2 separate regions of the Homo sapiens genome follow, and region 1 is linked to region 2. The links come from fine-mapping of genetic effects on gene expression. A gene starts in region 2. The other region holds a variant in brackets. All regions are shown on one strand. Distances are from middle to middle. Region 1 overlaps LOC105372708 (a long non-coding RNA gene). Region 2 holds the start of CABLES2 (Cdk5 and Abl enzyme substrate 2).

Region 1 (5,358 bases), 33 kb before region 2:
GGCCCTCCACAGACTTGGGGCTCTTCAAAGCCTTCCAGGCCAGGCACCATGCCAGGAGCATGGCCACCGCCTTAGGGCTCCAGGAGACAAGTCACCCGTGCAGGTGACATGCCTCACGCCTGCCCACTCCCCGAGGCCCGACCCAAAGGCTGCCACTGGGTTCACACCTGGGGGGTTTCAGGTGGGCCCCCATGCCAGAGGGGGTGCAGACAGGCTTAGGTGGTGCCCAGTGTCGGAGATCTGGAGAGGGTCAGCATCCGGGCTCCTTGGGCTCTCCACAGATGCTCCCCGAGGCTCCTCTTGCCCACCCAGCTCCTTTTCTTCCCAAGTGGCAAGGAGAAGCGCTTGGGCTGGTGCCCTGTGCAGGCGGGCCCAGCCCCATGACAAGCAGGCAAACCTGGGGTGCTCAGAAATGGGGGGGCCTCATGGAGCTCTGTGGGGTGGTCTGCGTGGCGACCGAAAGTCCAGAGTCCAGGATCCCACCTGGATGCCCCTGCCCCGGCCTGGGCCTGTGTAGCTGGGTGTAGGGGAGCCTCCACCCTGCCAGCCTTTAGGAGGGAAGGAGTAGGGGGCCCTGGGAACTCCCAGGGAGGGGGCCCGGGACCTCCCTGGGATCTAACCACCTACAACTTGGCAGGGAAGGGGCCGGTCCAGTAACAAGGTTGCTCCCAGGACCCCAACCCATCCCCTCCCTCAAGTGGGGGCCCCTGTCAGGGCACCTCCCAGCACCTTGCTGGGGTGTGAGGCAGAGTCCAGGACTCCTGCCCCCAGATCTCTGGGGAGCCCCAGAAAAGGCATCGCCCGGGGTAAACATGCAGTGGCACACGGCTGCAGCGTCCACCCCGAGGCCGGGCACCTACGCTTCCACGTGTCACCTTAATCTTATTTAATTGCGGTCCCCCTACCCCGTACCCCCATTCTTACCACTTGCTTGCCTCAGGCCTAGACTGGGGAGCCCTAGTGAGCTCCAGGGGCCAGGAACCCCAGGGGAAACAGGCGGAATGGGGGCGCCCCAGCATGCTGGGCAGGGTGACTCGGGACCCTGAGCCTCTACCCCTGGGGCCTGGCCTGCCTGTGCCCTCCTCCCCCACAGGACCACGGCTCCAGCAGGCCCTCCCCTGCCTCTGTCCTTGCCTGGCTGAGCTCTGGTTCTCATAGAGGGTGGGGCGGGTGGGGGGTGAGGGTTCTGAGCTTCTCCAGGAGGTGCCCACAGACGGCCTTATATGGCCAGAAGGCCTCGAAGCCCAGGAGGAATCTGACTTCCCAGGAGGGCCCAGTGGGCAGAGCCAGAGCCTGGGCAGGAACCTGGGACTGCGCCCTGGGCGAGGCCAGGGCCCCCACGAGCCCACCCTCAAATGTCTCCCATGAACCCAGCCTCCTGGGCTGAGAACCCCTCAGAGGGAGGCAGCTTGGCCCGGCCCCTCACCGACCTTGGGACATCTGGCTGGGGGTCCCACATGGATGGGAACACCTGCAGCTCTGCAAAGGCCCCTCCTCAGGACAAAGGCCTCCCCTCATCCGGGTTGGCTTTCCCGCACTGCAAGGGCAACTCCCCAGGCCCCACAGTCAGCCGCTTCCAGCCTCATGGACGCCCACGGGGCTTCATCCCCTCTGCCTGCGCCCTGGTGTGTGCCTTGGCTAGCCAGGGTCCCTGGGGCAGAGGGAAGCGTCCCCCTCCCACCCCTCCCTCTCCTGACTCTCTCCCTCTGACTCTCTGCCTCTCTGTCTCCATCTGTCTGTCTCTGTTTCTGTCTCTATCTCTGTATCTCTTTCTCTGTCTGTTTCTGTCTTCAACTCTCTGTCTCTATTTCTCTGTCTCTATCTCTTTGTCTATCTCTCTGTTTCTCCGTTTCTGCTTGTCTCCATCTCTCTCTCTATTTCTGTCTCTGTCTCTATCTCTTTGTCTATCTCTGTTTCTCCGTTTCTGCTTGTCTCCATCTCTATTTCTGTCTCTGTCTCTATCTCTTTGTCTATCTCTGTTTCTCCGTTTCTGCTTGTCTCCATCTGTCTCGATCTCTGTCTCTTTGTCTCTGTTTCTCTCTGTCTCTGTATCTCTCTGTCTTTGTGTCTCTCTATCTCTCTTTGTCTCTCTTGCTCTCTTTGTGTTCCCCCCGCTGCTGCCCTAGCCCTGCCAAGCTCAGCCAAGGGTCTTAGGGATCACAGGTGTGAGCCTCGGTCACGTTCACTAGGGATCGCGGGTGTGGGCCTCGGTCACGTTCACTAGGGATCGCGGGTGTGCGCCTCGGTCACGTTCACTAGGGATCGCGGGTGTGCGCCTCGGTCACGTTCACTAGGGATCGCGGGTGTGGGCCTCGGTCACGTTCACTAGGGATCGCGGGTGTGCGCCTCGGTCACGTTCACTAGGGATCGCGGGTGTGGGCCTCGGTCACGTTCACTAGGGATCGCGGGTGTGCGCCTCGGTCACGTTCACTAGGGATCGCGGGTGTGGGCCTCGGTCACGTTCACTAGGGATCGCGGGTGTGCGCCTCGGTCACGTTCACTAGGGATCGCGGGTGTGCGCCTCGGTCACGTTCACTAGGGATCGCGGGTGTGCGCCTCGGTCACTTTATTTGACTGGATCGAACGTGGGGCTTGGCTTAGTCTGGGGGCTGGTGCCA[T/C]CACTGGGACACAACGGGCCACGGTTCCTGCCCAGGAGCTGGTCCAGATTCTGCAGTGAACCAGGATCCCAGGAGTGACGGCTCCCAGGCCGCGCACTTCCACACTGAAAGTGCCATCCACAACAGGGATGGGCCCTCTGTCCTTGCGCCCTCTGCCCGGGAGGCATGTTGCTGCCCCCGGCTCACAGAGGACAGTGCAGCGTGTCCTTGGGCGTCCAGGATGAGATCTCCTGACCCACATCAGCCCCCCAGACAAAGCACATAAGGCAGAGGCAGCTCCGTGTGCTCACTGCTGCGTCCGAGCCCAGCGCTGGGCTGCTGGACGATGGTGGCTGAATGACCGATCGCCCCTCTCCCGTCACCTTCCCACTGCCCCGGGACCCACATCCTCCCACACCAGGCGTGGCAGGCAAGGGCCCAGTGCCCAGACTCCAGCCTCTTTTTATGCCCGCCTGAGGCCCACACCGTGATCCTCACTCTATAGCCACCAACAGAATCAGGAAATAAGACAATAACAACTACAGGCAGGATCCTGCGGGGACCAGTGTGGTGTCCAGTGTGGGAGCTGCTAGGACACCAGCTGGTGGTTCCTCAAAGGACTGAACACAGTTGCACACGGCCCAGCAGCTCCACACCTGGTAGCTGCAGAGAGAAGCGTAAACACGTCTCTGCACAGACACTCGTGGGTAAACACGCACGGCAGCGCCAGGCACCAGAGCCATCAGGCAGAAACAGCCCGAACGGCCATCCAGGGTCGACTGGGGAGAGAAACGTGGTCCATCCACACAGTAGACATCAGTGGACAGGAGCGGCACTCTGTACAGGCAGGCTCTTGGAGGGGCTGCCCAGGGACCAGGGACCGGAGGCCTGGGATGTGCCATGGCCACTGGCCCCTCGCCAGTGTGGAGGGGGAGAGGGAGGAGCACGTGGATGCTGAGTGAGCCTGCAGAGCCAGTTCAGGCGGGCAGGTGCCTGGGAGTCTTCAGGTGGAGGTCAGTAGAAGCAGGGTACTTCTTGGTGCTTATGGGCCACCCACACAGCCTGCCAACACCAGCTGGACCTGTGCTCATGCACAGAGAGGTGGGGGCCTGTGTTTAGGGCCATCACATACCCAGGACACCCAGCCCTACACACTGACTCAGCCTGGGGCGGGAGAGACAGCCCCGCAGCTGCCTCTGTCTTCAGCCCGGTCTGCCAGGAGCCTGAGTTACTAGGCAGGTCCAGGGCCTGACCCCCGTCCCCTAGGGTCTTCATTGATTCAAACCGCCAAGCAACACCTCAGCCACCTCCACCTATTGCCAGCCCAGTTTCACGAAAGGAAGGCTGAAAGGTGGGAGGATGGCAGTGCCACTGAATCCCCTGGGCTGGCTGCCCCAGCTCCGGCAGGAAGATGCCCCAGCTGGGCCCCCATGTGCCTGTCCCCTGCCAGGAGGGGGAGGGGGAGGGGGTGGGCCAGGTGAGGAGGTAACCCCAGGATCCCACTGGGCCCCCGATGTGTGGAGGGGCAAAGTGTGGGTGGGCCCACTCCAGGCCTCTGTTTGCCACAAGTTCCAACATTAAGAAAATATTTGCAGCTCTTCTGGGGAGCTATTTCCTGGGGGAATGTAAACACACGGAGACTTGGAAGGCTCCCGCTGACCACAGATGGTGCTGGGGTCCACTGGGGGCCCACGTTTCCTCTCGCAAGGGATCTGGACCACCCCCGGCAGCCAGGTCAGGGGTCTGTGCGTGGCCTCCCATGGGGCTCTCTCTCAGAACCCGGGAGTGGCAGTGGGGATGGCGTGCAAGAGAGCAGCTGCCACGGAGCCTCCTGGCGGCCAGGGTAGGGCCTGTCGGCCCAGTTGCCCACTGCCTGCTCCTGGCTCCACAAAGGGCTTGCTGGGCAGCTTCAGGTCAGAGGCGCAGCCCCCACCTCCAGCCCCCTGAACATGTGGGGGTTGTGTTTTCTTGACCTGGGCCCCCCCGTGCCTCCCTCCCACCTCTGTGCAGGAGAGCCAGGCAGCCCGTGCAGCCGACATCAGGCCGGGCGCGGAGCTGGCTCCCATCTCCTGCGAGGGACCTGCTCTTGTTTTTTTTTGTTTTTTGAGATGGAGTTTTGCTCGTCGCCCAGGCTGGAGTGCAGTGGCGCGATCTCGGCTCACTGTAACCTCTGCATCTCGGGTTCAAGCGATTCTCCTGCCTCAGCTTCCTGAGTAGCTGGGATTACAGGTGCTCGCCACCACGCCCAGCTAATTTTTGTATTTTTAGTAGAGACAAGGTTTCACTATGTTGGCCAGGCTGGTCTCGAATTCCTGACCTCAAGTGATCCACAGGCCTCATCCTCTCAAAGTGCTGGGATTACAGGTGTGAGCCACCGCCTGGCCCCCTTGTTATCTGTATTTTACAGATGGGGAGGCTTGGTTGCAGGTGAAGTGTGGCCATGTCCTGCCAGCCCCCCGGAGCTGGTGAATCCCTGCCTTATCTGCAAGTGGCTTCTCCCCACACAGAAAGGCGAAAGGCGACCTCCGCCTGAGTGTTCCAGCAAAGGCCGACTGGCTCAGCTCCAATATGCTGAGCTCGGCAGAGCCTGGACAGGGCTCCCCAGGCCCCGCAGGAGGCTGGCGCAGGCCGCAGGCTGGCCTCCCTATCTCCACCAGGAATGCACTGAGCCCCTGCACCCCTGCCCACCCAGGTGGAGGAATGTGGCAGGGGCTGCTGGGAACTCGGAGCCTGGAGGAGGGCTTTTGAGGCCTCTGCCTCC
Region 2 (5,358 bases):
ACACTGACTCCTGCCACATACCTCACCAAGCCCTGGGCACGCATCTGACCTCTGACCTCAGGGAGGCCATGCTTAGTGCTTAGTGTGAACCCGCTTCTCAGAGGAGATTGAGGCTCAGAGAGGCCATGTCACCTGCTCAAGGTCACAGAGGTACTGAACAGTGCAGCTGGGATTCCAAGCCAAGTCTGTTCCCAGAGCCCAGGTCAAACCACCACACTCACAAGACCAACATCAGGGCTGCCTTCAGGACTTTCAGAATTCTCTCCATTTCCTGAAACCAACTCATCCTAGAACTCTCAAGCCAGGAGCTAGCAGCCCCTTTTGCCGGGGCAGCCACCCTTCCCTCGATCAGCAGCCAGGCCCAGGGAACGCAGGGTGAAATGGACGTCCTCACGCTGGGGTCTACCTATCAGGGAGGGGCCATGGCCCTCAGAAACAAGGTCAGCACCACGAACTTGGCAGCAGAGCCCCAGGAGGGACGCCTCCCCCTCCAGGAACAGAGTGGGGTTCAGGAAAGACCTGAACAGGGACATGGGGGCCAAGGAGGAGGGAAGGGAGGAGACAGCCCTGGGCAAGGCAAGGGGTGGTGGCGCTTGGGCCCATGGTGGGTACGGCAGGAGGACTGCAGGCACCCAGCCCATGCCACGTCCCATCCTGTCCCAGGGATGCCGGCCACAGCGCACCTTCTAACAATCCCACAGGGCAGGGATGTGCTGCACGTGGGCAGCATGCTGCGCTCAGAACTGTCACCATGGAGGCTCTGGGCCTGCAGGGGGTGCCTTCTCAGTCACAGGCACTTCCCTGCGCGTCGCCACGCTCTGCCTCCCTCCACTCAAGTGGGCTCCACTCCACGCCAGGCCTGGTGCACACAGGGGTGCATGAACTCTGTGGAAGGAGGGCCTATGACAGCACCCAGTCTGCCTGGTGTCACCATCCGGTTCTGGACACTCAACATGCAGGACTGAGGGAGAAAGCTGTTTCCATGTCAAACAACAGGGCCCGGGGTTAGGGAAAAGCCCACCACACCTGCGGAGCTCGGCCCGTTGGGGTGAGCCCGCTTCCCCTGGAGTCCACACCTTAGGGCCTTGCCGCTCTGCCCTGGAGAGTCACCACCTTGTTCCATCTCTCCCGCCTTCCTGAAGGAGCTGGCCATGCCAAATGCATGGGGCCTGGCTGCCACATTTGGGCAAATCCATCCCTCTGCCCCAATCATCCCTCTGACCCTCCCTGGAGCAGCGGCCAGGCATGTCCGTGGGGGGACATCTTGTGGACAGGCCTGGGTCTGCAGGCACCCTCAGCCTGGCTACGGCCAGGAACACTTCCAAGGATGGAGTGCACCGCGACCTGCGTGTGACGCAACCTGCATGTGACGTCATAGTCTTTGAGGACAGAGTGCTGTGTTCTGGGCCCAAACTTCCCCAACCAAAGACCTTAGAGGAACCCAATGCCTCCACCTGCCCGAAGGCCAGGGGCGTGGGGCAACTCTGATGACCTCCAGGTAAGCAAGGAGCACGTGCCAGCCTTGACCCAAGAGCTCTGTGTCGGCCCCTTTGCTGCACACCTGCAGGGGCTGCCTCTGGGAACAGCCGCCCAGCAGGCACTTGGACCTGTGGACAGTGGCTCCCTTTGAGAAGGAACCGCAACAAGCAGCCAGTCCTGGGCCCAGAGCCCACAGTCACTCCTGGAGGTGAGGGCTGTGGGAGGCAGGGTCACCCAGGTCCTGTGGTCTCTGGGAGAAGGACACAGGGTGTCGGGCAGCCAGGGGCCATCTGGGCAGGGGGCACACGCTGGACAGGCAGGGCTCATGGTTGGGGTTGCCCTGGGATGGGCTGAGGTGGTTCCCAGAAATGGAATCAAGGCAGGGGGAGCAGTGGAGACCCAGGGTGTGACAGACCCAAAGATACCGAGCTGAGAGTGATGTGGGGAAGGGCGGGGCTCAGCAGGGAAGTGACAGGGAGAGGAGGGGTGCCAGAGACCAGTGGCTGTGGGATGGGAGATGTGGCTGTGCAGGGGCCTCTGGGAACAGGTGTCAGTGACAGTGCCAGGAGGACCCCGGCCCACATGCTGGGTCTGAGGAGGTGGGCATGGACGGTGTGGCCCGGTTCAAAGAATGCGAAGAGATGCACAGGGCTGTCCATGTGTCCCTGTGTCCCGGGCACTGGTACCAGTGGATGGGGGTGGGGGCATGTCCAGAACCCACAGGGCTGGGGGTCTCAGGGGTAATAAGGGCTGAACCCTAAAACCCATTTCAGAGCACTGACAACGTGGAGATCCAGACCCCGTATTCAGGGGCTGGGAGAATTCAGGGGACAATGAACCCTATGTGTGGGGGGTGACAGGGCCTGAGGAAACCCTCAGCCAGCCCAGGAACCCCCAGTTCTGTATCCAGGACTGACAAGGTCCCAGGTGAACCCAACCCCTGTGTCCTGGGCTGATGAGGGCCCAGACTGACCCTGACCCCTGTGTCCTGGGTTGACAGGGGCTCAGGTCACCTGAACCTCTGTCCAGGGCTGACAAGGCCCCAGGTGAACCCAACCCCTTTGTCCTGGCCTCTGTCCAGGGCTGACAAGGCCCCAGGTCACCTGACCCCCTTGTCCTGGGCTGATGAGGCCCCAAGTAATCCTGACCCCTAGTCCTGGGCTGATCCGGCCCCCGTCCCCGTCCCTGTACCCCGCGTCCTGGGCTGACCTGGCCGGGCCCCCACTCACCTCTGGCGCTGCCCATCCAGGCCGAGGCCGGTGGGCACCTGCGTGGGGCTGAGCAGGCCCTGGGGCGCGGGGGTCCTGGCGGGCAGCCCGGTGGGGGGCTCCGGCGGCGGCGGCGCTGGCGGTTCGCGGGCCTCGGCGGGCGGCGGCGGGGGCTTCTCTCCGCCCGGGCCCAGGCTCGGGGGCCGCCCGTCCAGGGAGATGTTGTTGAGGAAGAAAAGCGCGGCCTGGCGGCGCCGCGAGTCCCCGCGCCTCCGCAGCGCCTGCGGCGGGGCCCGAGCGGCCGAGGTCGGCGCGGCGGGTGGCGGGGGCCCGGCGGGGCCGGGGGCCGGGCCCGGGGCTCCACCGGCCGCGGCCGCGGCCATCCTCAGACTGCGCCCGCCGCCGCGAAGCGCCCCACCCCCTGCCCGCGCGCCCGCGCGCCCGCCGCCCATTGGCCGCGGCGCGCCCACATGCAAATGTATCGCCGTCGCGCTCTCCCATTGGCCAGCGAGGTGCCGCGCTCAGGGCGCTCCCCTGGGTCCTAGAGGCGGTCGGACGCAGCAGCAGGGAGTCGGGAGCTGCGCGCCTCCCCGCCGGTTCGAGTCCCCGTCTTGGGACCTGCGGCCGCGGGGCTCTCGCTTTCTGTTCCCTTTGCTGTATGGCGGCCTTCGCGGATGGCCTCCATCGAGCGCACATTTTAAGGCTCCGGACCCAGGGCGGCGTGGGTGAGGCCCCAGCACACTTCCCTGTCCGGAGGTGTGTCTGGGCGGCGCTTCAGCGGGCGCAGGGCGGCCCCTGGAGGAGCCCCACCGCTTCCCGGAAGGGCCCGCGTGCCATCTGGCCTCCTTCATTGACAGAAGGGAACGAGGGTCTGAGTGGAGAAGGCACCTGCTTGGGATCAAAGCCCCAGGCAGAGTCCTGCACTTCCTGCAGTAGCAAAGTGACCTTGAGCCTGCCTTGTGCCCAGGCCTGTTTCCTCTCTGTGCCTGGGTGCCCCTGACTTCAGAACCTGTGAGCCCGTGGCACCGGGATGGTCAGGGCCTGCCTCTGGAGCCCGGGAGCCTGTCTGCAGTCTGGAGGGGAACCCGCTGTATCTTTGTGGAGGGACTCAGGACCTTGCACCCACCTCTGTGTCACCTGCCTGCTCTGTCCAGCTTTCTTTCATGGGTTTACGTATCTTTAAAGAGGGGACAATGATTTCAGCCTCAGGGTACTGTCAGGATGAAACTGGCTCAGTGAGGGGGTCGGGCTGTGGCCGGAGGCCAGGCACATGCAGTGGTCAGTCCGCGAATGCGCTGCAGTACCTCGCACCTGCCCGCATGCGCCCAGCCTCTCCTGTGCTGGGTGCTGGGGACCCGGTGGGACCGACAGGCACAGCGCTGGCCCTAGGAGCACCTGGTGTGTGGGGAGGCAGCATGATGGCCAACAAGGCAGTGGGCGAGTGGGCAAGACAGGGTCTTCATCACCACCCCTAGCATGGGCCCCTGCCCTTCAGGCCCCTACCCACCTCCCGCCTGCCTGCTCCCTCCTGTGGGCCTTCACGGGCCACCATTGGGGCTCACGCAGCATGCAGCACCTCCATTTCCTTTCCCTCCGCCCTTCCAAGTTGGCCTCCAAGGCCTCTGCCAGGCCTAGGGGAAGGTGGGCAGCTGTCCTGTCTAGGAGAACGCGGGGCTGGGTGGCATAGCAGAGGGGTGGCTGCGGATTCTGGATCCACAGAATGGGGTGCTGACTTGTGTGCCTGGGGGCTCCCGTGAGCGGGGAGTGAGTGTGTCCAGCGCTGTAGGGTGCTGAGGCTGGGGCAGGCACACAGTGGGCCCTCCATCCCTGCTGGCTATCACCAGGAGGAGGGGCCTGACAGGGGAGGGTGGGCCATACACCAGCAGCTTGCAGAGAATCTGGTGTCAGATGAGAACAGAAAGGGGCGAGTGAGGGTGGAGGGCAGGACGCAGGAGGCAGGAGGCAGCTGTCCGTGCTGGCTGCAGCGCCGGGTCCTGGGGATCGGCTGTGCAGTAGGGGGGCCCCTAGCCAGTTCTTCTTTGCTGGCGCTAAGCTAGACTTTGAGGGACAAGGAGGAATGCTGAGGAAGGAACGGGGTCTCTTCCTGGGTCTGGTGAACCCCCTTGCTAGGCTCCCGCTGCCAGTCTTCTCCCCTCCCCAGGGTGTCGATGGGTGGCCAAAAGCCAACCTGGCCTGCGGGCAGTGTGTAGGGAACACACGGCTTTTGTTTCGTGTGATTCTGGAGAAATTAAAGCAACCTTTAACACACCTGGACTTCCCTCTTGGGAGTTCAGTCCCTCTGGCCTCTCAGGACAACAGGCAGACATGTCACAGGCTGCAGGTGGGAGGCAGTGCCCCCTGAGTCAGGCCCGCACCCCAGTCTGGCCCAGGCCTCACCCAGCCCAGTCGTTGGCCCGTGTCCTGCCATCCCTGTGATGCGTGGTTTTAAATGCCCAGCTCACCTTGGTGCTTTGGCTGCAGAGGGCCCTGCTCATGAGTTTCGCTCCTTATTTTCTTTGGCTCTCACCCTGAACTCTGAGCAGGTGTCAAGCGCAGGGCTCTGTCTGGATGCTCCTGACTGCAGGCCTGGCCCTTGGGCTGACTTCTTAGTTTCCCCCTTGCCCTGGCACCCCTCCGTGGCCCCCACCTTTCCTTTCTGCCTGATCCTTGT

The links. PIP is the estimated chance that this variant, and not a neighbour inherited with it, causes the effect. A credible set is the group of variants that fine-mapping cannot tell apart.
Region 1: its variant is the best candidate, but not a certain one, in a credible set for the expression of CABLES2 in whole blood (TOPMed, PIP 0.70).

What each region holds. Positions count from the first base shown.
Region 1 is chr20:62,371,266-62,376,623 of GRCh38, forward strand. It overlaps LOC105372708 (a long non-coding RNA gene), which reads right to left. Exons shown (of 2, transcript XR_936966.4): 2 at 2,550-5,358. Among named protein-coding and RNA genes, the nearest start is that of LAMA5, 6.6 kb to the left of the region's middle. RefSeq lists enhancers at 1-447, 3,130-3,733, 3,734-4,335. The variant T/C (reference allele first, on the strand shown) is at 2,619.
Region 2 is chr20:62,404,207-62,409,564 of GRCh38, forward strand. It overlaps CABLES2 (Cdk5 and Abl enzyme substrate 2), which reads right to left and starts at 3,079. Exons shown (of 10, transcript NM_031215.3): 1 at 2,709-3,079. The coding sequence starts at 3,070. LOC105372709 (a long non-coding RNA gene) reads right to left here and starts at 2,688. Exons shown (of 2, transcript XR_936967.3): 1 at 684-2,688. RefSeq lists a silencer at 2,996-3,245.